Homo sapiens: one gene and its partners. The protein of the gene in region 1 purifies or fractionates together with the protein of each later gene. This does not show direct contact. Each region holds a gene or a part of one and is shown in the gene's direction. Other genes may lie near its edges.

What was found.
Region 2: the proteins of NRROS (region 1) and POMT1 purify together in Homo sapiens (affinity purification with mass spectrometry; 2 studies listed by BioGRID and IntAct, with this or other methods). This does not show direct contact.
Region 3: the proteins of NRROS (region 1) and ITPRIP purify together in Homo sapiens (affinity purification with mass spectrometry; 2 studies listed by BioGRID and IntAct, with this or other methods). This does not show direct contact.
Region 4: the proteins of NRROS (region 1) and SLITRK5 purify together in Homo sapiens (affinity purification with mass spectrometry; one large-scale study listed by BioGRID and IntAct). This does not show direct contact.
Region 5: the proteins of NRROS (region 1) and HS6ST1 purify together in Homo sapiens (affinity purification with mass spectrometry; one large-scale study listed by BioGRID and IntAct). This does not show direct contact.
Region 6: the proteins of NRROS (region 1) and PDF purify together in Homo sapiens (affinity purification with mass spectrometry; one large-scale study listed by BioGRID and IntAct). This does not show direct contact.

The regions. Positions count from the first base shown.
Region 1 is NC_000003.12:196,652,593-196,657,583, forward strand, and holds part of NRROS (transforming growth factor beta activator LRRC33 precursor), read left to right. Parts: intron 1-1,934; 5' UTR 1,935-1,947; coding exon 1,948-2,055; intron 2,056-4,991. UniProt on the Homo sapiens protein: Key regulator of transforming growth factor beta-1 (TGFB1) specifically required for microglia function in the nervous system.
Region 2 is NC_000009.12:131,522,109-131,525,790, forward strand, and holds the end of POMT1 (protein O-mannosyl-transferase 1), read left to right. Parts: coding exon 1-116; intron 117-823; coding exon 824-998; 3' UTR 999-1,691; downstream 1,692-3,682. Other genes in the region: UCK1 (uridine-cytidine kinase 1), read right to left, coding at 2,932-3,113. UniProt on the Homo sapiens protein: Transfers mannosyl residues to the hydroxyl group of serine or threonine residues. Coexpression of both POMT1 and POMT2 is necessary for enzyme activity, expression of either POMT1 or POMT2 alone is insufficient.
Region 3 is NC_000010.11:104,331,150-104,336,140, reverse strand, and holds part of ITPRIP (inositol 1,4,5-trisphosphate receptor-interacting protein precursor), read left to right. Parts: intron 1-2,235; exon of another isoform or gene 2,236-2,514; intron 2,515-2,642; exon of another isoform or gene 2,643-2,803; intron 2,804-4,991. UniProt on the Homo sapiens protein: Enhances Ca(2+)-mediated inhibition of inositol 1,4,5-triphosphate receptor (ITPR) Ca(2+) release.
Region 4 is NC_000013.11:87,668,980-87,674,653, forward strand, and holds the start of SLITRK5 (SLIT and NTRK-like protein 5 precursor), read left to right. Parts: upstream 1-2,391; 5' UTR 2,392-2,801; coding exon of another isoform or gene 2,802-3,326; exon of another isoform or gene 3,327-3,388; intron 3,389-3,609; exon of another isoform or gene 3,610-3,846; intron 3,847-4,244; exon of another isoform or gene 4,245-4,595; intron 4,596-5,674. Other genes in the region: formin-like protein 5, read right to left, coding at 2,802-3,326. UniProt on the Homo sapiens protein: Suppresses neurite outgrowth.
Region 5 is NC_000002.12:128,269,895-128,274,885, reverse strand, and holds part of HS6ST1 (heparan-sulfate 6-O-sulfotransferase 1), read left to right. Parts: intron 1-4,991. UniProt on the Homo sapiens protein: 6-O-sulfation enzyme which catalyzes the transfer of sulfate from 3'-phosphoadenosine 5'-phosphosulfate (PAPS) to position 6 of the N-sulfoglucosamine residue (GlcNS) of heparan sulfate.
Region 6 is NC_000016.10:69,326,760-69,332,051, reverse strand, and holds PDF (peptide deformylase, mitochondrial precursor), read left to right. Parts: upstream 1-1,463; 5' UTR 1,464-1,481; coding exon 1,482-2,055; intron 2,056-2,872; coding exon 2,873-3,030; 3' UTR 3,031-5,139; downstream 5,140-5,292. Other genes in the region: COG8 (conserved oligomeric Golgi complex subunit 8), read left to right, coding at 677-817, 957-1,213. UniProt on the Homo sapiens protein: Removes the formyl group from the N-terminal Met of newly synthesized proteins.

The DNA.
Region 1 (4,991 bases):
TTTTTTTCTGGGCTGGTTGGCTGAGTTTAGGAGGAAGGAGAGGATATGTTTTAAACTTGCAAAATTCTTGATGACCCATAAATTAAAATGCCCCTCCTGAGTGTGACACAAGGCCTGGCTTGCCTTCCAGTCTGAAGGTTGCCTTTTCGCTGAGGGACCTGCACTCTTGCCCCTTACACGTCTAGATTCAGTTCTTCGATACGCAGGGCTGGCTCTTCCAGAGAGACTGGAGTCACAGCAGCAGGTACCACCCCACACCTGACAAGAGGTGGCCAGGGAGGAAGGGAGGGTTCTTACCTCCCCATCTCCCCTCAGTAAAATTCAGGATGCCCAGTGAAGTTTGAATGTCAGATAAACAATTTGTTAGTATAAGGATGTATCTAGCATTGAAATGATGCCTTGTAATTTACTAAATCTGCAACTATGCAGCCTTATTTCATGGCGGGCAGTGGTGGTGATCCCAGGTTTCAGGGGCGGGGAAGGGTGCTGGGGGGATCCTGAGGTCAGGAACCCGTACACCTCTGCTTCTGCCCTCTCTTCCCTGTGCCGGCCACAAGGCAATGACTCCTGTGTGGGTGCAGAGGCAGAAATGGGTCTGGAAGGGGATTCCCAGTGTCTGGCAAGTTCTGGTAAATTCTGCATTGGAGGTTCTCTCTGTAGTAAGGGGAGTTGGCCTGGCCTGAAGTGAAAGCTGGCTTACCCGGTTTCATTGAGCTCTTCAATTAGTCTGTTTGCACTGGTGAGCATTCAAATCTGATCAAGAAGGTAAAATGAGCTTTCAAGATCCCTAAATGCATTTGAAGAAAGGAAAGAGGAGGCCCCTGAGTGGCTGGAGCGAGCAGGTGGGGTGAGCTGGTGCCGCTGGCCCAGGAGAAGATGGGAGGGCAGACACTGGGCCTCCGGTAGGTGTCAAGGAATGGGCAGATGGAATGCTGGGGCCAGCTCTTGCCTCTGGGTCTGCAGAATGCAGAGCTGGGGGCATGCACTGGGCGTCAGGTCCCCAGCAGGGCAGCAGTGAGTGCAGCCTCGCTGCTGGGAGAAACTGCCCTGCTCACTCATCGGAGCTCGGGGAGCGAGGCGGGGCTGCTCTTAGCCCTGCCACTAAGTTCATCCACAACCTCGAGTAGTATCTCTGGGCCTTTGTTCACCTGGCAAATGTGATGAGTATATTGCATTTCCCTTATGGCTCCCCTTAGTTCTGAATCTCTGCTGGTGCGTGTATACCTTCAAGCCTTCTCATTATTGCTGTTCTCTGTGCACTGGCCAGGCAAGCGGGCTGGCAACCACGTTTCGTTAACCACCTTTATTCTACCCAAAGATTGCTTCTTCATTTTCCCTCCGTGTTTCCCCCGTCCAAGCAAAATATCAAACCTCTTTTTTCAAAGGGTCATAGTCAAATGAGTGAACCAAAGAGATCAACGCTTTTGTAACAGCCCCACATCAGCAGCTGAGGAGTAACTCTGGGACAGAGGCCCCCATCCGTGTTTCCGTCTCCGTCCACTCTCCAGTTGTTCATTCATTCACTCAGCAAGTACTTACTGAGCTCAGGGGATGCATCAGACCGATTGGAGCTGGAGGCAGGAAAACTTCAGCAGAATTACAAAATATGGGAAACTCCAGGTGACTGGAGGCCTGGTTACTCAAGCTTTTTGCTTCTCCCTTCTGTGCTGGACTCGCTGAAGTTTAGTGTTCAGCCACCCGTCCATCAAGTGGTAGAGGCAAAATGAAATTGAGTTCTTGTCAACAGTTTCAGTGAAAGGCCGGAAGTCTTGGCTAAATGGAGGTATCTGAGTATCCTGTGGGCTGCACCTCTATGGAGCTCCACAGAGCTCCAAGACCACATAGAATTGGAACTGGCTCCTTCTGCCGATAATACAAACAGCCCTCTGGGATGTCCTTCTCTGACTTACCTCTTCCCTGCTCTCTGTCCACAGGGCTGCCCTTGAGATGGAGTTGCTGCCTCTTTGGCTCTGCCTGGGTTTTCACTTCCTGACCGTGGGCTGGAGGAACAGAAGCGGAACAGCCACAGCAGCCTCCCAAGGAGTCTGCAAGTTGGTGAGTTTCCCTTGAACCCTGATCTGTCGGCTGCTCCTGTCCTGACAAGGCTTGGTCCATTTGGAAAGCTGACAGATTGTCCATCAGGAAGGGCAGAGAATGAAGGAGCCTGCATCACTCTGTGCCTGCCTAGCACAGGGGCATGTGCAGCTGCCCTTTAACCACAGGATTTTAAGATGCTTCCTGGGAAGAGCCAGGCAGTCCCTGCCCCGCCGTTCTCACGCCTGCTGAGGATAGGAGGCATCCGAGACCAGCCTAGGGCATCCTCCCGGAACAAGAACAACTTGTTAAAAATCTGGATGATTCAGGCCGGGTGCAGTGGCTCAGGCCTGTAATCCCAGCACTTTAGGAGGCCGAGGCAGGCAGATCACTTGAGCCCAGGAGTTGGAGACTAGCCTGGGCAACATGATGAAACCACATCTCTACAAAATACAAGAATCAGTCAGGTGCGGTGGCACACACCTATAGTCCCAGCTACTTGGGAGGCTGAGATGTGAGGGTGGCTTGAGCCCAGGAAGTGGAGGTTGCAGTGAGCTGAGATCATGCCCCTGCACTCCAACCTAGGTGATGGGGCCAGACCTTGTCTTTAAAAAAAAAAAAAAAAAAGCCAGGCGCGGTGGCTCACGCCTGTCATCCCAGTACTTAGGGAGGCCAAGTCCGGCGGATCACCTGAGGTCAGGAGTTCGAGACTAGCCTGGCCAACATGGTGAAACCCCGTCTCTACTAAAAATACAAAAATTAGCTGGGCGTGGTGGTGCATGCCTGTAATTCCAGCTACTTGGGAAGCTGAAGGAGGAGAATCGCTTGAACCCGGGAGACGGAGGTTGCAGTGAGCCGAGATCACACCCCTGCACTCCATCCTGGGCGACAGAGTGAGACTCTCTCAAAAAAAGAAAAAAACAAAACAAAACAAAAAACTGGATGACTGAGCTGCACCGATGGTATGAGAATCTCCGGGTGAGGTGCTTGAGAGCTGGAGAAGCCTGCCTCGGAGTTTGTGGACGAGTTGACCGCTAAGGCTTACACAGCTGCGGGGAGGACTTGCTGCCATGCCACTCTGCAGAGCGGCAGCCCGGACCACGCTCAGGCTAAGAAGACCCGGAGCGTGGATACCCAAGCCTCCTCTAGGGCTTTCAGCCTAGATGTGAAAATAGACTTGGGTCCAAACTGAGAAATTTCCAGTAATTTTCCCCTTCATCTATATAACAATGATATCAAAAGTCTGCTCAAGAAACACATATTTAGGCCAGGTGCATGGCTCACGCCTGTCATCCCAGCACTTTGGGAGGCCGAGGCGGGCAGATCACAAGGTCAAGAGGTCGAGACCAGCCTGGCCAACATAGTAAAAACCCGTCTCTACTAAAAATACAAAAATTACCCAGGCATGGTGGCACATGCTTGTAGTCCCAGCTACTCGGGAGGCTGAGGAAGATTGCTTGAACCTGGGAGGCAGAGGTTGCAGTGAGCTGACATCGTGCCACTGCACTCCAGCCTGGGTGACAGAGTGATACTCCATCTCAAAAAAGAAAAAAAAAATGAAACACATATTTAATAAACATTTCTTGAGCCATATTATATACTAGGCGTTGGGAAGACAAATTGGATGTCAGGGCTAACACTTACATTCAAGTATGTATTCTTAAAGCATAGCTGTCATGGTTTTTAACCTCTTTTAGTAGGAACCTATAACCACTGTGCTAGAGTCTATTCCAATATGACATAGAGGTTACAAGCTAGACTGGCCTGGTTTAAACCCAGCCCCACCCTTAGCTGGTGACATTGGGGTCACTCTAGGTCATAGTTTCTCCATCTGTAGAATATATACGTAATAATAATATCTACCAATAACATCATGCTGTGTTGACTGATGATTAAATGGGTTAATACATGTAAAGCACTCAGGACAGTGCCTGGTAGGTAGTCAGTGCTACGCGTTTTATCCGTTATCACTCATATTATTATTAATCTCTGCTATGTTTGACCTCCAGCATTCTCTTACAGAGGCAATAAAGGATTAACTACACAGTAGTTATTCAGGGGTTACCAGGCACAGGAAGAGGAGAGATAAATGAACAGCCTTTCAGAGTTCAGGCAAGGCCCTCTGCTTGACACTTTCTGGCCCAGTGGGCAGGAGTAGAGAATTGGCTGCCAGGAAGCCCAAAGAGTGGGTTTCCTGTGGCTCTTCCGAGTTGAGGACTGAGAATTGGAGAGTCTGGGTGCCCTCCACTGGCCCTCATCACATTATCCATTTGACCTTATTAGAAAGTGGACGTTGGCCAGGTGCGGTGGCTCCCGCCTGTAATCTCAGCACTTTGGGAGGCCGAAGCAGGCAGATCACCTGAGGTCAGGAGTTTGAGACCAGCCTGACCAACATGGTGAAAGCCCGTCTCTACTAAAAATACAAAAATTAGCCAGGCATGGTGACGGGCACCTGTGATCTCAGCTACTCAGGAGGCTGAGGCAGGCGAATCGCTTGAACCAGGGAGGCCGAGGTTGCAGTGAGCTGAGATCGCGCCACTGCACTCCAGCCTGGGCGACAGAGCAAGACTCCGTATCAAAAAAAAAAAAAAGAAAAAGAAAGTGGACATGGTAAGCTTTTCTGGGATGGCCATATGGTCCTTCTACATCACTTCAGCGGGGCCACAGGGAATTGCAGAGGTGTGACCCACGACTGCAGCAGCTGTGGTGGAACAGCACCCCATAGCGTGAAGAAAGCCCCTGACCACAACATTCTCCAGTGAGTCCACACGCAGGGAGGAGCGCAACACCCACTCACATAAAGACACACACCTGGCCGGGCGCGGTGGCTCACACCTGTAATCCCAGCACTTGGGGAGGCCAAGGCAGGTGGATCACCCGAGGTCAGGGTGGCCAACATGGCAAAACTCTGCCTCTACTAAAAATACAAAATTAGCCCGGTGTGGTGGTGTGAGTCT
Region 2 (3,682 bases), on another chromosome or scaffold:
CTCCCGTTCTTCCTGATGGAGAAGACACTCTTCCTCTACCACTACCTGCCCGCACTCACCTTCCAAATCCTTCTGCTCCCTGTGGTCCTGCAGCACATCAGCGACCACCTGTGCAGGTACGGGGGCTGCGGAGACAGTGGCTGGACCGGGCAGCAGCCCTCTGCTGGGAAGCCCATGCGCAGCAAACACATGGGGTGCAGCGAACCTCACCCATTTCACGTTACACTGACATCCTCCGGGTCCCTCCGGGGAATGGGTGAGGTTCAGAAGAGATGCCCAGATGAGGCACTGCAGGAACCCAGAGGGAGAAGTCGCGGCTGACAGAGATGAAAGCGGAGTGGGTGGGGAGACGGGGAGGGGATGAAGAGATGTGGGTGGCCTGGAGGATTCGGGAGCAGGGAGCAAGGCCCAGGAGCCTGGGGTGTCAGAAACGGCAGCTGGTTATGGTCGGGTTGTGTGGTGTGGTGGAGAGAACCCAAGAAAGCTTCTAAACCAGAGTGTGTTTGGAGGTTGGAGCAGAGGGCGAGGGCCTCCCGGTTTCAGGAAGCCACACAAGGGAGGACCGTGGGTTTGGGACCAGTCCTCTGGCATCTGTGTGGAGGTGGCCCAGCCACTGTGGAGGCCTGAGGAGTCATCAGGGGGCCCCTCTCAGTGCATCCAGGTGGGAGATGGTCATGGGTGGCAGGAGACAAGACACAGAAACCTGAAGGCAGAACCCCAGGCCTCGGGGGGTGACCGTGTGGACAGCAGATGCCAAGAGGGTGCCGGGCAGGGAAGCCGCAGTGGTCAGCCACCCTCCCCCACGCTGCTCTGACCTCTGCAGGTCCCAGCTCCAGAGGAGCATCTTCAGCGCCCTGGTGGTGGCCTGGTACTCCTCCGCGTGCCACGTGTCCAACACGCTGCGCCCACTCACCTACGGGGACAAGTCACTCTCGCCACATGAACTCAAGGCCCTTCGCTGGAAAGACAGCTGGGACATCTTGATCCGAAAACACTAGAACAAGAGTGTGGCAAAGAACACCCGTGCTGGGGTCGGGATGAGGTTGAAGGGTCTTGGTCAATGTACGTAATGAGCAGGGTGGGCCCCACGCTGGGAGGACACGGGCTGGGCTGAGCAGGGCCTCTAGTGGAACACATGGGGGTCTCATTGAAAAGCTCTCTGATGAGCACCTCCTTTTGTGCAAAGTTAATTTTTTCTCGACAATAAAGATATTCCGTGTCTTTACCCCTGAACTAAGACACAGGGAGTATTTCAGAGGCCAGCGTAGGAGTCATTGACAACAAAAAGCCGAGAACCCAGGGCCAGCAGTGGAGCCTCAGCAGACCAGGGCCTGGTCCTTGCTAACTGCTGCAGGGTGGAGTTTGATCTGGCAGACCCGATCCTCCTTCATGAACACCCAGCAACCTGAGCAAGTCCCGGCCCTGCCCTCAGCGAGCCCGGCAGGCGTCCTGGGACAGCTCAGTGTTGGAGGGCCACCTGAACCACGAGCCAGGGCTGGGGCTTGCATGTCATTGTCTATGACAGCGTCAAGACTGGCCCTTGGCACCGTGCTGTGTGGAAACCCTCCCCTCTGAGACTCCACTGAGACGTGGCTGAGTGAAATCTTCCTCGTCAGTGGTCAAGGTGTGTCATCCATACAGCTCCATGCCTTTGTCTTTTTTAAATGTAATTAAAAAAGGAACCAACTGGCGTTTGTAGTTGGTGTTTGTTATTTATTGATTCTCCCTCCAAAGGGGCCTAAGCTCGACAAAACCGTTACAGTTGTCAGAACCCAGCCACAGGGCTCAGCCCCCTTCCCCCACGTCACGTCTGCATCACTACTGTGGGTGAGCCTGGACGGACGGGGGCTGGGGCTGCCCATGGCAGCGGCAAGGGATGCTTTCCAGAGACAGCCACCACGCAGGAGGGAGGATCACCCCAGGCAACCCAGACACGGGTGTTCACATGTGAGGCTGTGAGCTCCACATAGCACAAAGGAGGCTTGCTGACTTTGGGCGGCCATGTCTGCTGGGACCTGGGTGATCCAGTGCGTGCCACAGCCAGAAGCACCATTCCCTGCATATGGCCACTAGCCACCCTGGGGTGGGACAGCCTGTCTAGACAGACAGCACCTTGGGGGCTCCCCTGAGGGTCAGTGAGGGCCTGACCCCAGGCAGGACTGCGTGGACGCTGTTCTCCAGCCGGGACAGACCTGGCCTCCGCTGCCTTCTGCCCTACTGCATGGGCTCCCAGCCTGGCCCCGCACAAGCCTGGGTGTGATGCTGGGTGCTTCCAGGGCATCCGCCTCGCTTCTCTGCCTTTAAGGCACAAGCAAGGGGGGAAAACATCCCTCAGTGGCTCCCCATATCCGTGTAGGCCACGCTGGACTGCAAACCACTGGGTCATGAAATTAGGTTTGTAGGCCACAACCAGCCTTGTGTTATGAAACAGAAAACAGAAAACATGAGGACATGTAACATGTAAAAAAGGAAAGTACTTGTTCACAAAACTTTTGAGTTATGTGTGTGAGTGTGTAAGAACCAGATCAGACTGGAAAAAACTCTCTCCCACTGTGGGTTCACTGTCAACAAAACATCAGGCCAGCCAGTGTCTAGGCTGTCTCCTCAATTTCCCCAATAATGTGCCTCACATTCCTCACAGAAGCCTCCCAGGCTTCCTGCACATTCTGTGGCATTTCTCAGTGACCTAGAGGGATCTTTAAACCGCAACGAGCCTAAGTGGCTGAAAACCTCAGGAACGCCTGTCAGTGTCCCAGCAAGTTGAGTCTGAGTGACACATCTGAGTTTCCACTCCTGAGTGAGGAAGGCCTCGCTGCTAACACTCCCCTGGGGTGCGCCGAGAGGAAGCAGTGGGTGTGGGTGGGCGTCCCCAGGCTCAGTCCCTGAACACACATGCCGGGCGGGAGACCTGCCCTGAGGCTCGGCAGCCCCTCAGTGGGGTCTGCTGCTGGACTCCAAATGTGACCGTTTGCCAGAGGTCAGCATCCCAGGGTGGTCCCCTGGCTCAGAAAAGGTCCGCTTGTAGCTCCGCCCATTGGACCCTCCTCGGTGCCATTTGCAGATGTCACCATTCAGAATGTCCTGGATGTGCTGCACGATCAGGTTGATGGCAACTGCGCCAAGAGACAGACAAGCAGCGGGTTAGCCGCATCCATCCTCCGTGGAGACCGCCCCTCCCCGCAGCACTCGGCCAGGAGTGAGCGCCCAACCTCTGCCCTGAGGCACAGCCTGCGGCGAGGGGCATCGAGTCAAATCTCAGCAGACAGAAACATGCATCAGGACACAGCAAAATAAGACTTCTTAGCTTGGTCTTCCAGGAATTTATGTTAGAGTCTGCTTAAAGTACTTTCTGCTAACAGATTTGAATATACATATATATATGTTTTAAGAAACAGGTTCTTACTTTACTGCCTAGGCTGGAGTGCAGTGGCCCAATCACAGCTCACTGCAGCCTCAACCTCCCAGGCTCAAGCAATCCTCCCACCTCAGCCTCCTGAGTAGCTGGGACCAGAGGCACATGCCACCATGCCCAAATAATTTTATTTTTTGTAGAGATGGGGTTTTGCTATGTTCCCCAGGCTGTTGAACTCCTGGGCTCCAGTGATCCCCCTGCCTCAGCCTCCCAAAGTGCTGGGATTACCAGTGTGAGGCACCGCGCCCAGCTACATACATTTTTAAGCAT
Region 3 (4,991 bases), on another chromosome or scaffold:
GGGGCTTGATGCCTCTTAGAAATACTGGCCTTACTTGAGTGGACATAGCCAAGCCATATAGCTGGATAAGTGGCATGTGAGCTGGATTTATCCTCACCCCTCAGCCAGGTGCCTTAAGCAGTACACTGCCTGGTCCACCATTCACACAGCAGCCCTGATAAACAACCACTATTGAGGGCTTAACATTCGCCAGGCTTTTTTTTTTTTTCCCCAAAAGTACTTAGCCTGTATTAACTCATTTAATCCTCACAGTAGCCGTATGAGTTAGGTATTGTTAACTCCATTTTACAGATGAGGAAACTGAGGCACAGGGATGTTAAGTGTTCCAGAGCCTGGAAGGTGAGTCTTAATCACTGGGCATTCATAGACCAAGAAGCAACTTAAGCTTAAAAAGCTAGTTTAATTGGGAACCCTCGTGGGAAAGGGGGAAGAACAGTTGCCTTTTTCTTTCTCTGTCAAAGGAGGAAATACCCATTCTCAGTCCAGGTGGAGGAAGGAGGGGAAATTCATCTGGCAGGAGGCAGAGGAGGAAAGAAAAGAGGCAAGCCGGGCCTTGATGGCTGATGGGGAGCCTGGCCCAAGAATCAAGTGACTTTCCTTAATCTCTGGGCGGTGTGAGGTGGCAGATCCAGTTTGGGGCCTGGCATGAGGGTGATGAGTAAGTGCCCCCAGGTGTGGCTCAGAGGGAAACGGCGGTGGCTGCACGCAGGGTCCTGACCTAGGCAGAGAGCGAGTGGAAGGAGGTGAGACAACTGTCCTGACCTTCCAAACCCCTAATCCCCATCTGTGGTCTCTTGCTTCCTTGTTGAAGTCCCATTCACCCACAAATGCCCTTCTCAAGTTCGTCCAAGAACCCTTCCTGAAACTCCATTTCACAGTTCCATATACATGATCTCTTAGTTTCCACACCGTACAGCTGAGCGCTTAATTAGCTGGAACCGAGCATTTCACTATGTACTGTCGATAGGCACTTTAAACAAAATAGGCTTCTCATCAGTGAGGAAGTCAAGATGCCTCCTGGGAGGGGCCAGCTGGTGCCCAGCAGATTGCTCAGAGGGTGGTGTTTACCTGGATCACGTCACCTGTCCCAGGGCATGGCTCTTAGCTGTGCCCGCTCAGAAACCCAATTTCCATAATTTTCAGAGTGGTTTGGACTCAAGCTACTGATTCACCCTGAGAAAGCTCCCAGAAGAGGGTGTACGAATCAGAATGCTGGTTTATTAATTTGCAAGGAGACTTCGCAAACATCACACAGACTGAATGTCGTCTCTTCCCTGCGTCCTAGACAAGCCATATGGGAAACCAAAGACCAGAAGGTGGACTGCGCTTATCAAAGCTGGAGTCAGAACCAGGCAGGAGCAGCATGGGGTGAGGGTGGGGGACAGTGATGTCCAATAGTGCAGGGCTTTGTCTACCTCTGCGGCCCTCTCACCAGCAGAAAGATAGCTGCCAGGTAGACTGGATACTCAGGTCAGCCTGGCTATGGGCATCTCCTTGGCCAGTGCCTCAAGGGCAGTATTTCCCTGAGAAATCCTGGTAGCATTTCTCCCTTTCCTCTCTCATAATGTAGTAATTTTTTATTTTATTTACCTATTTGTTTAGTGCTTTGCAAGCATTAGCTCCCAGAGACATAGATTTGCATTTGCGTAAATTCGATAACTACTGTACAATCTCAGAGTTGTAGGGCCAGGCCATGAGAGTAAGTGCTATATGCAAATCAAGAGGATGATCCGGTAACCTGGATGGATCAATAGAAAGCCAAGCATAGAGCAAAGACACGTGGTCCCCAATCAGCATGGAGGCTGGGCCAAGGCTGGCCAGTTGTTGCATCCCCTGCGTAGGCCAGGGGGTGAAGCATTCCTAAAGCAGTGCCTGCTTCGGCTGCCTCAGGCAGCCTGCCCTGCTCAGCTGGCCTCTTTAGATTTAAAGGGCTCTTTCTGGTCTCTGTCCAGGCCCTTCATGGCTCATCTTTAATGAGCCACATCTCCAGGTGCCCAGAGCCAAGGCGGTGTGACTGCACGGGCTTTGAAGTGGGGCAGACTTGAGTTGAGTCCTGGCTCCACCACTCGGTGGTTGGGCGTTCTCAGTAGTTGGGCAGGTGCCTTGATTCTTCAAGTCTCGGTAACATCATCAGTAAAATGGGGATGACCCTCAGGGCTGTGGGGAGGGTTGACCCAGACGATGCACAGAAGGCTCTGAGCACCGTGCCTGGCGCAGACTGGAAACCTGGCCAGTGTGCGCTCTTCAGGACAGCAGAGGTCGGTTGGAGGTCTGCATTCTCTGCCGACTTGGGCCCCAACTTCCCCATCAGGTCACTGCTCCCTCCTCTGAGGTCTGGACAAAGGACAAGGCTGTAGGGACCTAGACTGTCCTAGACGGGGAGGACATCTATCCTCAGTGGTCTTTCCAGCAGTTTGTTTGGAGCTGCTCATCCTGATCTTTTGGCTGACTCTGGCAGAGGGAAAGTCAGATTTGAGGCCTGAGCTCTAACAGGCATCCAGAGAGGAAGGAAGGGTAAGGAGCTCTTCTGGGCGAGGAAAGGGGTCATTTGGGAGTGCCCCAGAGGCCTGTAGACCCCTCCTCAACAGTTTAGGACCTGTGACGTTTCCCCACAGAGAGCACATCCCCCCTCTATCTGTTAGGCCCACCCCGTGACATCAGTGAAACGGAAGCACCCTGCAGGTGACATCACTGTTGCTCAGGGCAACGCCTCCACCCTAAGGCGGACGGGGAGGTGAAAAATCGGCCTCAAGTGTGAGACGCATGTTGAAGGGAAGGGACATAGAAGGTGTAACGTTCACAGGTGTGTTTCTCAGAGGCTGGGGAGAGGATGGGCCCAGTTAGCGGCAGGGTGAATAGAAGAGGGAGGTGCTGCAGTCTCAGATCTGGGCTGTGTCAGTTGGTGGTGGGTCTTTAGGCCTTGGGTCAGAGAGCGCAGTGCTGACAGCTGCAGTCTCCTTCAGTTCTCTGAACGGGACTCCTTAGGGGTCCTCCTGCAGCCTGGATCTGTAAGGAGGGTTAGGGGAAGGGCAGGCTGGAGCAGTGATGGGGCCATCAGAAAAGTGACTTTCCATTCTTCAGCCTCCCCACAAAAGAGAGTGAGAAATAGGATGCTCACATCCTTATTACGGGGGCTTCATTGATCGAGCAGCCATTGTGTATCTGTTATGCATGGCCTGTGCCAGGGATTCAGCGGCCTCGTGGAGCGTTATGATGAAATGCACATGGAGAGGAAGAGTGTATGGAATCCACTGCCCCAAGAGGCAGGACCAACTGGAGATAGGAATCCCGTCTCACAGTTCACCTCACTCAACTTAGCATTCCCTGTGGAATTCTAGATGGGTTAAACTAAATTCATGGAATGCTTTCAGTTGGGTGTGCTTGAGATACACTTGCTAATTTGGGAGTGGAGTCAGAGGGGGCAGCCATGGATGTCCATCTTGTCCCTGGGATGGCACTGTTTACAAGGCTGAGGTCACTCAGCAGTTCTGATGCTCTTAACTTGGTGACCTGTGTTTCCGCCACATCTTATCAGGTGATGCCTGCTGCTTCTCCTAAGCAAGGGCTGCCAAATGTCAGCACAGGAGACGAAAGAGGCAGGAAAGGGAGGACTCCCTGCCCTGAAGAAAGATGAAAAACTAGATGATATAGTAGGTGTCTCTGTAGAGGTTTCAGGAATCGCCTTGTCCTTCCACTTGAAGGCACCTGATTAAAGTTTTTGTTTTGTGCAACTAGGCATAACTTCAGGTGCTTTTCTGATGTCCAGCATTTCGGTGGCTAAAGTCATTGCCCTAATTCTTGTATGCACCTAGCTTTTTCAGGTTTATAAATAAAAATTAGAGTATCATTAATCTGCAGAATCCACCGTTATGGATATGACATTGTTCATATAAGTAGAATGGCCTTATTAAAAAAAAATAGTGGCTTCATTTACTGAGCAAAGCCCCATTCTAGGGGTTTACACATATTTATTTCTCCTCCTCACAATGGCCCTTCAAGGTGGGTGTTATCCTAGTTTTACAGGTGAAAGAACAGACTCAGAGGGACTTGCCCCAAACGGACAACAACAGAGAAGAGATTCGAATTTAGATTTGCTCTCTCCCAGGGCCTTGGACTCTTTCTGCCACCTCAGGCGTCTGTCTGGACACTGTAGCCCAGAACACATACAGATGGCATAAAGAATCCCACAAAGTTTTAAGTGTCAATACTGAGAAAACAGCAAGCAGACCACCAACTCCAGGCCTGAGACTTCTGGTCCCTTCCTGCTGTCTCACTCTGATATTAGCAGACCTAGTGAGCTTTGGAGACTCCTTCTGCCAAGAGATTCTGTGAGTGTGGCCTGAGCTATCTGAGGGTGAAAGGAAGGAAAGGCTTTCCCTTCCAGCACTGTTTGCTTTTCTGTTTAATAGGCACAGTAACAACCAGTTCCTGATAATATTCAGAGCACTTTGCAGTCCTCTGCTGGAAGTCCCTAGGAAAAATACAAAGCCCCGCAATTATCAAATGACTCACTTCCAGGTGCATAACACAGTGGGACACTCACTGCCTGGGAAGAGGGGCTCAGCTTGGAAGCAACCCTGGGCTGCTACTGCTTTCTCTCCCTTCTAGGTCATTTCCCTGAAGCTGATGCAGGAGTCCCCCCAACTCTCGCCCCCTCCTCCTGTATCAAAGCAGCAGGGAAGGTGTTGTCATTATTTTGGCCCTGCCCGCTAGTGCAAAACCATGTGCTCATAACATACTGTTCTCATGGGAGCCGGCTTCAATAGCCTCTTAGCAGCAGCCGGGGGACCCGCCTGAAGTTTACGAACGCGTCCTTTGTTTGCTGAGACTTTGTTCCAAAGTTCCCAAGGAGGCAGGGGTGCAGCATGCCTGGGCTGGAGGGTAGGAGAGCAGGGGCTGCCTGGGTCCTACCCCTGTGTGCTGCCCCAAAATGTCCCTAATGTACCCATGCCGCTTCCTGACATTTCACCCCAACACATGCCTACCTGCCA
Region 4 (5,674 bases), on another chromosome or scaffold:
AAATTTGCAGGTATCAAATTATGGCCATAATTGATAATGACAATTATATTTACAATATAAATGTCAAATATATTTCCCTACATGATATACACTTATGATGATACCCTCTCAATAGATAATTCTAATATGAAAAAAAAATATTTGCAAACATTTGGACAAATGTGACTTTCACATCCAACTCCATCAAATAATGTTTAATATTAATAGACTTAATTCTGGGGAGATATATTTGATCAATCATTTAATTTTACAATGGCCAAATGTATCTATGTAATTAAGTGCATGCATCTGAGTGCTGTCTGAAAGCATGTATACACATATGACCATGTGTTGCTTAGTATAGACTAAAACATAGATACATTTGTTCATGTGGGTAAAAGTTTTGGCTCATATTTGATCACTCTTATGTAATTCACTTATATATTTTCTAAGCAATAGTCAACATTCAATGCAAATAAAGAAACAGATTAATAACTGAGGCTTTTCCTTATATCTATGATGTTTTCCCTCTTGTGTTTTTCTGTTCTGAACTGTTCAAGTCACAGTATTTTCTAAAATTTCATTCTCTTGCAGAGCATCTTATAGAGACACCTAGTGGCAAAAGGTAATGGTGGCTTCCGGGACCATCCTTAATGTTGAGTTAATGGCAGAAAGTTTTCATCATTTACTTATTTGAACCACAAGAGGTAAACTAGATTATTAGCATAAGTGTTTCTAACAAAACTGTAACCTAAACTAATTCCAAACATATTTAATACTTCTTAGTTGAATAATATTTCCTTTAATTAGAACAATAAATATTTAAAATAAAAATAATACAAAACCATGAATTAAACTTTGCTATTGAATGAAATTATAAAGATTTAGAACAGTGATAAAATATAACAGCTTTATTTCAGCTATTTTGAAAAAATCAATAATCGATTAAGACAATTTAGGACCTTTAAGAACTTCTACAAAGTTAATCGATATTGAAAATTATGTTTCTGATAGGACTCAATATTTATATTCCAAAGGCTTCTGGCTGTAATTCCTATATAATTTTAAATTTAAATATTTCATTTCATTTTGAAAATATAAAAGTAATTTTAAACTTAAAATAAATTTTCTGAAATGTTTATATAATGTTAAAAGTTAATGACTGAATAAAAAATACAGAAATAAGCCTTTTGTGGATGACGTGTAAGTTATATTTGTTGATGCAATGTATCTACAGCTAGTGGCTATCATTCCTAGGTCAAATGCTTCTAAATTTAATGAAACGTTCATTACAAGATTTTGTTTTTATTGTCTGAAATTACATATTACTTCTTTCCTTCCTCTCCCTTGAATATAACCCATACTTAAACAAAATTGCTTCCAAATAAAGTTTTTATGGTATAAAGTAAAAATATATATATTCACACAACATACGCAGGGGAAAGTTCAAAAAAGATTGCAGTACCTCAGGAGACTGCAATGTTCATCACCTGAGATATATATACATCTCAGAACATAGACATATTATCAGACTCTATATCAATATTAAACATATGATTAACCAGATTATAACACAGTATTATCCCAAATATTACTAAGAATAAAACAATATCAATAATAATTAAGACGTAATTAATTGCAAAATAAAGTGGGTAAAATATATTTACATGGAGAAACTAACTACATAGTTATCAAAGGAACAGGCACATGTGCACTCAGCCTGCACTGGGTCACTTACTATTATCAACTTTTCTCTTATACCCGGGATGAACGGCAGGTCTAATATTACAAATATTGAAAACATGTCTTATGAAAGTAAAGACCCCTTTTTGGGGATGGAAGTGTCTGGTTTCATGGAAAGACCCAAGAATACTTACTGTAGAGATGACTCTAGTGGAGTTTAGCAGATGACTCTTCAAGAAACTCGCTTTCTATCGATATTGCATTTACTTAGGGGTTTTCCAGCTTTTTAGTACACACCAGATGTATTCACAAACATTCCCTCTGAAAGTCTTTCACATTCCCTTGTGTTGCCTAGACACACCTATAAAACGTAATTCTATTAAAGAGAAAAGAAAAGTAGCGCCCTTGTTTGCAGCTAGGAGGAACCACTCCCTTTTCCAGGATCCTTAACAGTAAGTACACGAGACAGCAGCATTCTGAATGGCAGGAGGAAGGCAGGCGATCAGCACAGGGCTGGAATCATCTGTTCCTGACCACCAGCAAGCCTGGCACTGCCGGGGTTATTTCCACTCCTCCCTTTCCCAATCCGAGAATTGCACAGTCCCACGCTCGAATTACACACATGGTCCAAGACTTCTCTCTCTTCCTACGAATGTGACATCCAAGGGGGCCCCGGTTGCGCCGCCCTAGCCCAGGGACGCCTTCGCCCTCGGCTGCCATCTATCGGCCACCGAGCGCCCGCTTCGCCCCGGGCCCATCATGTCTGCTGCAGCTTGGCTCGCACCAGAGGCGCGACAATAAACAAGTGCACTGGACTGGGCCCTGCACCCGCTCCGGAGCAGCTGTCTCAGAGACCCGGTGTTGCTTACCGCGTTGCCACCTCCTCGGCGCCCGGGAGGAAGACGCAACTTTCTCGGAGTTTTTTTTAGAGCCACCGGGCTGCCAGGACAAGCCACAGGCATAGAACGACGCGGTTGCTGCCCGCCCCCCCCTTCCCCCAGAAACCCCAAAGGATGTCGGTGATAGAGAGTTCCAACTAATGACGATTGTGCGCCGCATCTGGGGAAGGGATACAGAAAAAAACCCTGCAAACACCGTGAGGATGAAACTGCCAAAGGGATGCAAGAGCCTCTCAAATACTAATTAGGGGCCGCGGCGGCGGCGGGCTCGGCGCGGAGACAGCGTCGGCGGGATCCCAGCGCGGTGGTCGCCGCTGCGCTGGGGGGCGGAGGACAGCGCAGGAGCTGCAGCCGCCGCCTTCGCTGGAGCAGCCGAGGGGCCGGTGCCACCTTTGCTCGCCCCCTCACTACCATGTACAGTGTGCGCTGCAAGAAGAAGGCGGGAGATGCATGCACACCCCCGCGACCCGCTCCCTCTGGCTCGTCCCCCGGCGTGCGCCACTGACCAGGGGGGAATGTGGTGAAGACGGCGAGGAGGAGAGCCGAGGGGGGAGGGGAGGGCCGGCCGGCGCGAACCCAGGCCGGAGGGTGCGAGGAGCCAGAGGAGGCTGGAGGGGGCGGCGGCCACAGCTGGGTCGGAGAAAGTTGCCCCCTATGCAGATGGCAACTGTGAGTACCCCTGTGGGGGGGAGGGTGCAGCGAAGGCTGCCAGGGACCCCGCGATCGCGCCTTAACACGTATTGGAGCGAGTGTGCGAGTGATCATGAGTGTGAGCGGGTGCGAGCGCTCGGCGGGGCTGACCGTCACGTTGGCGGGGCCGGCGGGGCCAGGCAGTCTTCTCCGCGTCCCCCTCCTCCCGCTCCGTGCCTCCCCTCCCAGCAGCTCCCCCTCCCCGCCCCGCCCGGCTCCGGCTCCCGGCCCCTACCGCGAGGCGCCTCTCCAGCCGGACCTCCGCCGCCCCCTCCCGCCGCCTCCCTATCCCGCCGCTGCAGAACGCCCCCCGCTCTCCACCCCCCAACCCTGCTGCCCGCTCCGACTACCGCGGAGAGCACCGGGGAGAGCCTTTTGGGGAGCCCCGGAACCCGCGGTCGCCACCGCGGCGGCGGCCCCAGGCTGGAGGCGTCCGGGCGCCTCTTTCCTCCAGCCTCTGGGACTGCGCTGCTCGCAGTCTCCTCGCCCTGCCTGGGCTTGAGAAACCTAGTGCATACCCCAAAGAGGGTTTTTGTGTATGTGTGTGTTTTTAAAGGGTGGCTATGATGACTGGGCCTTGGAGATGTGAGACTGGGTAAGTCTATCGTTTACTTTGCAAAAGAGGTGTGTGTGTGTGTGTGTGTGTGTGTGTGTGTGTGTGTGTGTGTGTGTGTGTGTCTATGTGGCGGGGTGGTTTTCCTTCCCTCTCCTCCCTCCCCTTCTTCCTCCGTTTTCCCTTCCTTCTCTTTGGGGCGGGGTGGGGGAGGGGGAGCCTCGCGTCCTGGAACTCCGGGTGCTTCTGCCTGGGCTGCTGCTTGAGCAGCTGTGCCCGGAGCCTCCGGTGCGGCCTGGGTGCTGGGCTCCAGTCCGAGAGGCTCCATGCTGCTTACTGCAGGGACGTACAGGGCGGTGATCCAGTATCTAAATTCTTTGGGAGAAAATGAATAGTTCCCCCGCCCCCGCCCTCCAGGAAAAAAAAAAATCTGAGAATCTGAGAATGTTCAGCGCACCCGCGAATTTGCATCGGAGGTGCGTTTCCCCGTCAGAATGTCAGCCTCCCCAGGCTCATTCAACTTTATTTTCTCAAATTTTTGGTCTCCTTTGCTAGCAAGGAGGAGGGGGAAGGGAGTGGGTTGAGAGGAAGCTCTTCGACCCTTGCTAACTAGAACTGAATTAAAGTTGTAAACGCTGGAGTTTAATACTGGCTGGACTGAATTTGCAATGGGCTTTCAGATGGGGTGGGAGGTGAATGGGGGCGGGGAAGCACAGGGAGGGAGGGGGAGGGGACCCAACCTCGCTGAATGGATGTGCGGATTTGATCCAGCGGAGAACTGAAATTTCAAGGTAAACGTTTTGCTTTCACTGGGGTGGGGATGTTTTTGCCGCTTTTAAGCCGGGAGACGTTTACCGTTGCGTTGGGAGGTCGGGGATACTTGCGAGGTTTATGCACTGTGGTTCCAATTCATCTCGACACGTCTGGGTGGCCACACGTGAATGATTCGCAGGCACACTGATACATGTGCGTTTGAATGCAGGGGCGTTTAATAACGCGGGCTGGAGTCGACTTGGGGATCAGGAGCAAGGTCTCCAGGCTTGAACCCGCTGTCTCGGAAACATCTTGGCTTTAGTTTGGAGTTGCAATTCGATATTAGACTTCGGTAGTGAGGCAAAGGCAAGGTTGACCAGAGAAAAGGCATAGGTTCCTAGAGTCCAGCATTTCTATCAAATGTCCTCCACCCCATTAACCAACGCAGCATGCGCGCGCGCGCACACACAAACACACACACACACACACACACACACACACACACGCTCATTCCATTTATGTCCTTCCTTTAAGAGTGCTGCTGTTGATCAGAAGTAGGAAGTGGAAGGAAGCCTTCAAGGGGACAAAAAGAGAGCAAGAAAAAAAAGGGGGAGGGGGTCATATTGATTCCTGTGGGAGATGAAATTCGGATATTAAACAACTGACCTAAGTCGCTTACAGTTCTTCCTCCCACCTTTCTATTTTGCCTCTTAATCAGCCCAGGCGTCCTTTCCCTGAGATTAAAAAAAAGAGAGAGGGGAGCGTTAACAATTAAATGTAATAAGCAACTCCAAAGATGGGGATGCTGTCGAGGTGGTAGTTCCGTGCAAACCTTGCTATTACCGTTGCAAATAGACGCGGAGCCCAAGGTAAGGGAGGCTTTCGTGCTGATCCTTGGTGTACTGATTCCCGGTAAGCGGTAGGAACGTCCTTTTTAAACTCTAGGCATCGGGAGGTATTCGGAGATTGCGGATACCTTCGCTGAGTTCTTTGTAATCCATCGTGCAGAACTATTTCAGTGGCTTAAAGATGCGGTTTGGTAGCGTCGCTGACATGATCAATGAGAAGTGGTCGCAGGGCGCTCTCCGGGAAGCGCTGCTAAGTGGTACCGTGCATG
Region 5 (4,991 bases), on another chromosome or scaffold:
CTGCCTCAACCTCCCAAGTAGCTGGGAACACAGACATGTGCCACCACTCCCGGCTAATTTTTGTATTTTTAGTAGAGATGGGGTTTTGCCACCATTGGCCAGGCTAGCCTCAAACTCCTGACCTCAAGTGATCCACCCACCTCGGCCTCCCAAAGTGTTGGGATTACAGGTGTGAGTCACCACGCCTGGCCTTTGCCCCTTTTTTCCTAGAGCTTCTGTCCCCCTGCTCCTGACAGGCCCAGTGGGATGTTTTGCTGACATCCTGGAACCGTCCCCTGGGTTGGAGCTCCTGGCTTCCAAGTTTGTTTGTTTGTTTGTTTGTTCTGTTTTTTCTTTTCCTTTTTTGCTAAATGAGATGCCTACTCCAGGATCTTCCTAAAATAAGATTCACAGAAGGTAAATTTCCTAAGTCTTTGTATGTCTGAACACATCTCTACTGTCCATACTTGATTGATAGTTTGGCTGGGTATGAGATTGGTCATTTTCCTTCTGCCTTTTGAAGACCGTGCTCCAATGGTTTCTAACATACGGCGTTGCAATGGAGAAGCATGCCATTTATGTATTGTTTTTTTTGTCCAGATGCTTCAAGGGTCAACTTTTTAGTCCTCTGTTCATTCCCCACATTCATTTGCTCGGCACTTGGTCAGCCATTTCAGTCTCCGTGAATGATGTACTCCAATTCTGGTTATTTCTGTCATCATCTCCTCTATTTTCTCTCTCCCCTCTTTCTGGAAGCCTTGCTGGCAGGCACTTGGAGCACCTGAATGGATAGACCCTGCTGGATAGTGATAGGCACAAAGCCCCTGCTTTGTGGGGTCCCAGGTGTCAGTGCAGGGAAGACTGCTCTGGGGCACAGACCCTTCAGCAGGGGGTGCGAGGCAGGGATTAGATGAGCCTGGGCTCCTGAGGGCAGGGGCTGGGGACCACCGTGAGTGTGCAGACCATTCCTCAAACCTCTGAGCCATGAGCCGCCCCCTTGGCACCTCCAGAGAGCACATGTCAGAGAGCTGCCTAGATCTGGGGTGGGCCATTTGGGGAGTCCTCTGCACCTCGCCACACCCCGCCCTCTTCCTGCTTCTGTTTGACACCTCCACCCCGCCTTTTGGCAGATGACAGACTGGAGAGTAAACAGCAGATGCGTCTGGCAACGCATGCAATGGAGGAAAGAGGACGGAGCACAGGAGGTGGGACAGGGCAAGGCGCAGCTGGGGCACCAGACCAGAGGATGGCCAGGACGTGCCTGTGGCCAGCAGTGCCTGCAGTGTTTGGCAGAGGGAAGGGGACAAGGCAGAGGGGAGGGGAGGGCTCTGCGTGTTGGGCATGGGACTGGACGCCTCTGGCTCCTAAAGAGTCCCACCGGCTATGGAGGGGCGTGCCAGGTAGTGGCTTCCATACCGTTCAGGCAGGTGTAGGTAGGAACTGGACGGTGGCCAAGGGCAGGTCACCCTGCCTGGATCAGCTGTCACATCTGCAGAAAGGGGCAGGAACACCCACATTTGGCTGCTGGCCTCACAGGCAGCTTCTAGAGTCTGGCTGGCCCTTTGTCTATACCACAGGCCGTGTCTAGGGGACAGAACAAGGGGACCCAGGGCATGGCAATGTTCTGAGCAGAGAAGGTGCACAGGGAGCCGTGGGGACAGCGTAAGCCATTGGGCCTTAGGGCAGGGGCCTCGGTCAGCTCCTAAGGCTCCCCCAGGTGCAGTGTCCGTTGCGCCATTTTATTACAAGACGCAGAGCCGCTGGGCCAGCACTGCTAATATCTTTGAACACACCCGCCTCCCTGGTGTGGTTCCCCAGCAGCTGTCCCTGCAGCGGGAGGCCTTGGTCCAGAAGGGTTATGTGGGACATGGGCGCAGGAAGGACAGGTGAGGCTGACAGGCTTGGTCATTCCAGGGACCATGAGGGCTTTCGCTGGCTCAGGTGCCCCTTTCCCCTGCCGTTGCCCCTGTTGGTGCCTGCTAGACCTCCTGTGCACAGAAGGCCTTGGCAGAGGAGAGAGCCAGGCCTGGGGCAGTAAAGGAGAAAGCTTCCCCTCCAGTCCTCTGAGGGCCCCGGACTTAGATGGCTTTCAAATGAGTGTCTGTCTTCAGCAGCTCACCCTCCCAGCTTTTTCAGAAACCAAAGAGTAAATTGCTCACGGCTTCTCTAAGTGGCTCACACACAAAAAACCCGAGTCATTTCAATGGCTGGACCCAGAAAATCGAGCCCTCTTCTCTCCTCCCTGTCTCTGGCCCCCAACTCTGCCTCAGTTGCCCTGGGGTCTCACTGTCCCCTCAAGACACTGCCCCTGCAGGCGCAGGCAGAGAGGCCTTTGTTCCCCTCAGCTGTGTCCCCTCAGCTGTGTAGAGAGGATGCTGCCGTCGGACACGTGGTAACTGAGCCTGCTGCCACCCCCACCCGTGATGGTCAGTAGGTCGCGTGCCATCTGGGGCTACTAGAGCCGGCCCACTGTGCATACTACATGTGCCTGCTGGGTGCTCTGGGCTCTTCTCGCACTCCTGCACTGGCAACCGCTTATCTTTTTGAGCTGGGTCTTAAAGGTGGAGAGGTCTGACCAAGGGGCGGTCACTCACACTGGCATTCCAGTGAAGGGCATGGCCCATGCAGAGACCAGGGGTGATATACCCGTGTCCTCCTACCTGCAGACCGTGACGGTGCTGGGGAGGGGAGGGGGCACCAGGCCACATCGGGAGGGCAGCAGGTAGACGCTCCAGCCCCTCCACGGCAGAGGCCCTGAGCTTTGCAGGGGTGAGGAGGCTGTCATTCAGAAACGTCGCTGCCAGGGAGAAGGGACTTAGAGAAGGGAGCCTTGTGGCTGTGGCCCATGGCTGCCCTCACCACCAGGCTCCTGCCTTCAGGTGGCCAGGGGCCATCTGAACGCCCAGGGGACCTGGGTATGGGGTTGGTGTAGACCATGTCTTGGCCCTTCCCAAGGTGCCGGCTTCACCTCCATCCCTCTGTGCTCTGGTGCTGACCTGGCATTTGCAGTTATGTGCCCTAGTGGCAGCCGCTCGAGCTTGGCTGCCAAGACCCACGGTGTGGTCAGACCACTGTGTGCGGCTGAGGAATGAGTTCCTCCCAGGAGGGGAAAGCCCTCGGGTCAATCGGGGCCCTCGTGCCCACCCGTCACTGCAGGCCAGGATCGTGGCAGGTGGCAACCCCAGCTTTGAGTGCTGCGTCTTCTGGGGCTGCAGCCGCCCACTGTGAGCAGGAGGGTGAGGGCAGGTAGAGTCTGTCCTGCCATGAAGCTGGAGGCTTTGACAGCAGGGGCGGACAGAACTGAGCAGAAACACTTCACAGCCTGGCCACGAGCTCCCCGCTTTGTGCTCCCTCCCTCGCATTTCCCCGTGTTCTGCACCCCCAGAGCTGAGGAGCCAGGGCCCTTGTCCAGGAACAGGCTGGATCGAGGCCTGGTGCCTGCATGCATTCCCAGGTGGGAGCCAGGCAGGTGACCCGGACCCTCCACCAGCCCAGAAGCAGCCCTTCCACCGAGGGGCCTCACACCACTTCTGCCTGCTCCCTCAGTCATTAGGCCCAGCGCTGGCTAGGTGGCTCCAGACATGACCAGCAGGCTCTAAGGCTCATCAGCGTCTTCTGGAGCCTGCACGATACACACACAGGCACAGGCTACACCATGGGAGACCCCATCTGCAGGGTGCCAAGCCCTTGCATGCTTGGGCCTCTGACGGGATCTGTCCCCGCTGCTAACCAGGCACAGGGCAGCTTGCTCTGCAGGTCTTCCAGTCAGCTAGCACAGACCCTGGCCAGTGTCATGACTCTGTGGCCCTGGGCAAGTCACACACCCTCTCTGGGCCATGGGCAGAGGAGCTCATGATGGAGGCATGCCTTGGGCTTCAGGGGATGGTCCCTGAATGGGTGTGGGGCTGGGGCTGAAGGACCCGCCTGTGGGCTGGGGCGCTGAAAATGGGAGAGGAACTGAGCCATTTGTGTTTCCCAGATGGGGCCTGCTGCACTGTGCACAGCGTGTCCTTGCCCTCAGAGTCACCCTTGGGGCCAGAGTCCTTGTGGCTGTAACTCACAGGGTCATTGGCTGGGGCTAGGAGGGCAAGCTTCTCTGTTGGTGGACACATCACACTGTGGTTTTTTGTGTTCAGAAGAAACCTGCCACACTGGCCTGTCTCCATCCATTTGGTCACGGCCCCACAGGAGTGGGGAGCGGAGGTCCATGCGGCCCTATGCCTCCCCTGGACACAGGGTCAGCTAGGAAGGATATGGATAGCCTCTTCTGAGCAGTCAGGGCCTCGTGAGCCTGAGGCAGGAGACAGAAGCCTGCCCCGGCCGCCTCGGGCCCTTACTCCCTGGCCCTTGGTCATTATTGTTTCTAAAACGTTTGTCTCACCTGCTACCTGAAGAAGGTCCCGCCCTCTGGCCCTTGAGGCCCCGAGTGCCCAGGAGCTGCTGCCATCAGCATGGATGGGTGGTACCAGGCAGGCTGTGGGTGCAGGGTGCTTGGGGAGGGCCAGGTGTGCCTTGGGACGTGTGAAGTGGGAGCCTGGAGCAGGGAAACTGAGGCCTGCTCTCGCCCCTGCTGCCCACAGCTTATCTGCCCCCTGGAGACCAGCCGTGCCTGACCCTGGGGTCGTCAGCTCAGTCCTGCTGGGTCCTTCCTCCACCCCATCTGCTGAGAGCTCCTCCAGGGCAGGGTCTGAGCCTGCCAGGCCACAGAAAACACTGGGCGGATGACAGCTGCCTGTCCCTTCCTCGGCAGTCTGCATGCAGTAGTGCTGGCCTTGCTGCCTGCCCCTGGAGCCATCACTGGCTACCCCGCCTGCTTCAGAGCTGCCACCCCTGGGGCTTTCTGACATGTCCTCATAGGCGGGGGTGGCCTGCAGTGGCACCGCACCACTTGCCAGGCACTGTGCCTCCCTCCCTGCAGGGAGGTGTGCGGTCAGATCAGGCAGTTGCCAGCGGACACCAAGAAGCGCTTTGTGCTCCCCGGGGTCCCTCCATGCCCCCCACCCCCACCCCTG
Region 6 (5,292 bases), on another chromosome or scaffold:
ACTTTCACGTCCTTGTCCCTTTGTGGTAGGAGAGGGGCTTGGTTGAGGCACAGCTTCCCAAAGGGCAATGGGTCAGTGCATCACACGTGCAAAGCCTGGCTGCCCTCTGCTTTTTCCCTGGTGCTGCCTGAGGTCTGGGTTCCTGCTGCAGGCACCCTACACTGCTGTTCCGTTACGTTCTGCTTCACAGTATAGCTTCCCATTCCCTGTAACAAAGGTGGTTTTTGCTGTATTAAAACATAGTAATTGATGGCTGGGCGCAGTGGCTCATGCCTGTAATCCCAGCACTTTGGGAGGCCGAGGCGGATGGATCACCTGAGGTTGGGAGTTTGAGACCAGCCTGGCCAACATAGTAACTCCGTCTCTACTAAAAATACAAAAATTAGCCTGGCATGGTGGCGGGCGCCTGTAATCCCAGCTACCACGGAGGCTGAGGCATGAGAACTGTTTGAACCTGGGAGGCAGAGGTTGCAGTGAGCAGCAATCACGCCACTGCACTCCAGCCTGGGCGACAGAGCGAGACTGTCTCAAAAAAAAAAATAGTAATGGCTCGTTTTTTTTCCCTTAAATTTCCTTTTTTTTTTTTTTTTTTTTTTTTGAGACGGAGTTTTGCTCTTGTGGCCCAGGCTGGAGTGCAATGGCGCGATCTCGGCTAACTGCAATCTCCACCTCCTAGGTTCAAGCGATTCTCCTGCCTTAGCCTTCCCAAGTAGCTGGGATTACAGGCCTGCGCCACCAAGCCCGGCTAATGTTGTATTTTTAAGAGAGATGGGATTTCTCCGTGTGGGTCAGGCTGGTCTCGAATTCCTGACCTCAGGTGATCCGCCCCCCCCTCCCCGGCCTCCCAAAGTGCTGGGATTACAGGCGTGAGCCACCGCGCCCGGCCTCCCTTAAATTTCTATATTGAGTTTTATTAGTAACTGTTTTCCATTTTGCTTTCCCCACGTCTGGGTTAGGCATTCCTCCCACTCAGCTCTCCAAGTACGGTAACCTAGGGCATGTGAACATCGGCGCCATTCAGGAGCCCCTCGCCTTTATCCTGCCAAAGAGAGAGACGCTTTTCACCCTGGATGACCAGGCGCTGGGGCCCGAGCTCACAGCTCCAGCACCAGAGCCTCCCGCCGAGGAGCCACGCCTGGAGCCCGCGGGCCCAGCCTGCCCGGAGGGAGGGCGAGCGGAGACGCAGGCCGAACCGCCCAGCGTGGGGCCCTAGCCGGCGTCCCCTGCCTCCAGAACGCGGTGCGTGAGGTTCCCGGCGCGGGGTGGCCAGGACTGCCTCGCCCTGGAAGGTCCGGGGCGGGTTCGGGAGGCGGGAAGGCGCTCCCGGGAGGAGAGCGGAAGGGGGCGGTGCTCACTGCCAGTCTAAGCAGGAAGGCGGGGATCCAGTCGCGGCTTCGCTGTGTGCTGGCCGACGGCGCTTCCCGGCGTGCCCCGCGCTGCGGCCGGAAGGGGCGGGCCGGGTCACTGTTAAGGGGGCCGCCATGGCCCGGCTGTGGGGCGCGCTGAGTCTTTGGCCACTGTGGGCGGCCGTGCCGTGGGGCGGGGCGGCAGCCGTCGGTGTCCGGGCTTGCAGCTCCACGGCCGCCCCGGACGGCGTCGAGGGCCCGGCGCTGCGGCGCTCCTATTGGCGCCACCTGAGGCGTCTGGTGCTGGGTCCTCCCGAACCGCCGTTCTCGCACGTGTGCCAAGTCGGGGACCCGGTGCTGCGCGGCGTGGCGGCCCCGGTGGAGCGGGCGCAGCTAGGCGGGCCCGAGCTGCAGCGGCTGACGCAACGGCTGGTCCAGGTGATGCGGCGGCGGCGCTGCGTGGGCCTAAGCGCGCCGCAGCTGGGGGTGCCGCGGCAGGTGCTGGCGCTGGAGCTCCCCGAGGCGCTGTGTCGGGAGTGCCCGCCCCGCCAGCGCGCGCTCCGCCAAATGGAGCCCTTCCCCCTGCGCGTGTTCGTGAACCCCAGCCTGCGAGTGCTTGACAGCCGCCTGGTCACCTTTCCCGAGGGCTGCGAGAGCGTCGCCGGCTTCCTGGCCTGCGTGCCCCGCTTCCAGGCGGTGCAGATCTCAGGTGCGGGCGGCGGGGACCGGGGCTGCTGGAGCAGCGCGCGCGTCTCTTCTGCCCGACTCCGCGAGAGCGCAGAAGTGGTCGCGGTTCATACGCCGGACCTCCCGCAGGAGCGAAGTGGGATGCGGGAGCGGAGAGGCCTCAGGACGGATAGAAGCTCCTGTGGGGTAGAGCCCGCTCAGATAGGACGCAGGGGCGAGGAGAGGTCCCCTAGTTCCGCTGTTACCTGACAGCCTGGCGTCTGCTTTCTGCTCCCTTGCTCTCTGAGGCAAACACGCTCTTCGGCCCCAGTTAGATCCGCCACGGTGGAGTTGGAGAAGTGGGGGTTAGCCCCCGCCAGCCTGACCCAGCCCAGGGGGCTAGGCCATTCCCCCGTGGTACCACAGGATGCCTCGCGGAATGCGGGCTCTGCTGGGGTCGGGGTGATTGTTCCTGCACAGCAAGCCCGTCGGTTCAAGATGGTCAGAAAAACAAGTGGGGTCTCAAGCTGCAGAACCTCTGTTAGGAGTTGGGAGCCCACAGGTACCTCAGAAGTGGGAGGAGTGTTCGGAAGGGTCGCACCGTAGAAAGATGATTTCTCATCTCAGCTCTACAGTGAGCTCGATAACCTAATTACCAGAGTTGGGAACCAGGTTGAACGCTTGGTAATGGACCGAGATGAGGGACGTTTTCCAGTTAGAAGAGGAGCTGCTGTCTACATTTGCCATCTGCTGTTGCCTCTTGTCAATGGGAACAGCCAGGACCGGGGGCAGGGGTAGGGAGGTTGAGGATGATGCAGTTCAGCTGTTCCCACTCACCAGGGCTGTAACTTCCTTTGCAGGGCTGGACCCCAATGGAGAACAGGTGGTGTGGCAGGCGAGCGGGTGGGCAGCCCGCATCATCCAGCACGAGATGGACCACCTGCAGGGCTGCCTGTTTATTGACAAAATGGACAGCAGGACGTTCACAAACGTCTATTGGATGAAGGTGAATGACTAAAGCTTTGCTACTGGGGCTGAGGATTCCGGATACCAAGACGCAAACACTTTCACTTTGAGCTGGGCAAATCTTACTTGGCATCAACTTGGATGGCTCGCATATGACAGGAAACTGGATTGCCAAGGCATGGCAGACTGAGCTGGAGGAAGATGTCAGAAATGTTTGCCCTGAAATCAGTTACGGACAAAATGTTGGCTACAACTTGAGGAGAAAAATCACCCCCAAAGGAGTGGACATTTCCTAACAATTCTGTATGGAGGAAGGTGGGGTAATTGCATTCGTCTGCAGTAGACACGAGTTCCTCGGACCTGTATAATCTCCCAAAGCCAAGGTTTGGTAATAATGTAGTCCCCAAATACCTGAAAGCTGTCTTTAAAAATGCAGGTAAGCATGTGACTGGCCATTTGTGCCGAGTTCTTATTTTTACGGAGGGCTTGTGGCCTTAGACGCCAGTTTGCTTATGGAAATGAAAGAGAATAGTCCCTGTTCAAGGATGTGTTTCATGACAGCACGAGTGTAAATGAGTGCCCACACATTTTAACAGCCTTGGGCAGGATTTTGCTGCTGAGATCCCTAGAGCAGCTGGTTCTTGGCTCATTCTTGGGGTAGAGGCCGTGGATCAGGGCTGGGGGCAGGGGTGACAATTGAGAAGTGCACTGAGCCCTTTCCTGTTAACAATTGGGCATAGAAAGCAGGATTAGTACTTCCTGGTTATACACTTATTTTGTAAAAATAGAATTAATATCACAGCAACCAATGTGTAGGTTTAAGAAAGTGGCCAGGTGCAGTGGTTCACGCCTGTAATCCCAGCACTTTGGGAGGGCGGGGCGGGTGGATCACGAGGTCAGGAGCTCAAGACCAGCCTGGCCAAGATGGTGAAACCCTGTCTCTACTAAAGATACAAAAATTAGCCGGGCGTGGTGGCGAGCACCTGTAATCCCAGCTACTCGTGAAGCCAAGGCAGAGAATTACTTGAACCCAGGAGGCGGAGGTTACAGTGAGCTGAGATCACGCCACTGCACTCCATCCAGCCTGGGCGACAGAGCGAGACTCAAAAGTATGATTCTGGCTGTAGAGTTTTCTTTTTTTCTCTGTCTCAAAAAAAAAAAGTGTCAGCTTTGTCTTGTCAAGAGGTGAAGGAACTTGTTTTATTCTTTTATTTTTTTTTTAAGATAGAGACGGGGGTCTTACTATGTTGCCCAGGCTGGCCTCAAATTCCTGGTCTCAGGCAATCCTCCTGCCTCGGCCTCCCAAAGTGCTGGGATCAGTTGTGAGCCACACTACCCAGCCAAACTCCAGTTTTAGTTAAACTGTTTCACCTCATTTTTATGCTGAGTTTTGTAAAGTAGGTATTCTTGCTGAACAGAGTCCTGAAAATCAAACTATACAAGTAGTAGGAAGTCCATTAAGCTGTTTAGAGGAAAAAGTGTTATAAATGGCAGTTAAATGAACCCAGGAAAGACCCATCCTCCTTTGTGGCTTTCTCTGAGGCCCCATGAGGCCAAGCAGAAGCAAACTGGCTCTAGGTGCAGCCAGACTTTGAAAAGGAATCCCGGCCAGGCTTGGTGGCTCATGCCTGTAATCCCAGCACTTTGGGAGGTCAAGGCAGGCAGATCACCTGAGGTCAGGAGTTCAAGACCAGCCTGGCCAACATGGCGAAACACTGTTTCTACTAAAAATATGAAAATTAGCTGGGTGTGCTGGTAGGCGCCTGTAATCACAGCTACTTGGGAGGCTGAGGCGGGAGAATCGCTCAAACCTGGGAGGCAGAGGTTGCAGTGGGCTGAGATCTCGCCACTGTACTCCAGCCTGGGCGACAGACCAAGGCTCTGTCTCAAAAAAAAAAAAAAAAAAAAAAAAAGGGAATCCCAACCAGATACTGGTGCAAGGTCAGAGATGCAGCCAATGGGGAGATTTGTAGAAAGCTCATAGATGCTAAAAACATGGGTCTTTAGGAAAATTAGAATTCAGCTGAGCCTCCTTTCATTTGGACAATGTTCAGAAGCTCTTACAGGGGGCTATGGCAATCTTTTGATGCTTCTTATAGCTTTCTGAGGTTAACGCTTTTGTGGTGGGCATCGGTAGCAATAAAATGCAAACTTTATTGCATTTCCAGTAAAATCTCTCCCACTTTGAGCAGGAAGCACTCACAAAAAACGCATATACATGTCAACGTTGTGAGCTCATCAGAGTTTTAGAAATCAACTTCCACAGTGAAAGCCAATGTAGGCAGAAGGTTTATAACAGAATCCCCAGGCAGAG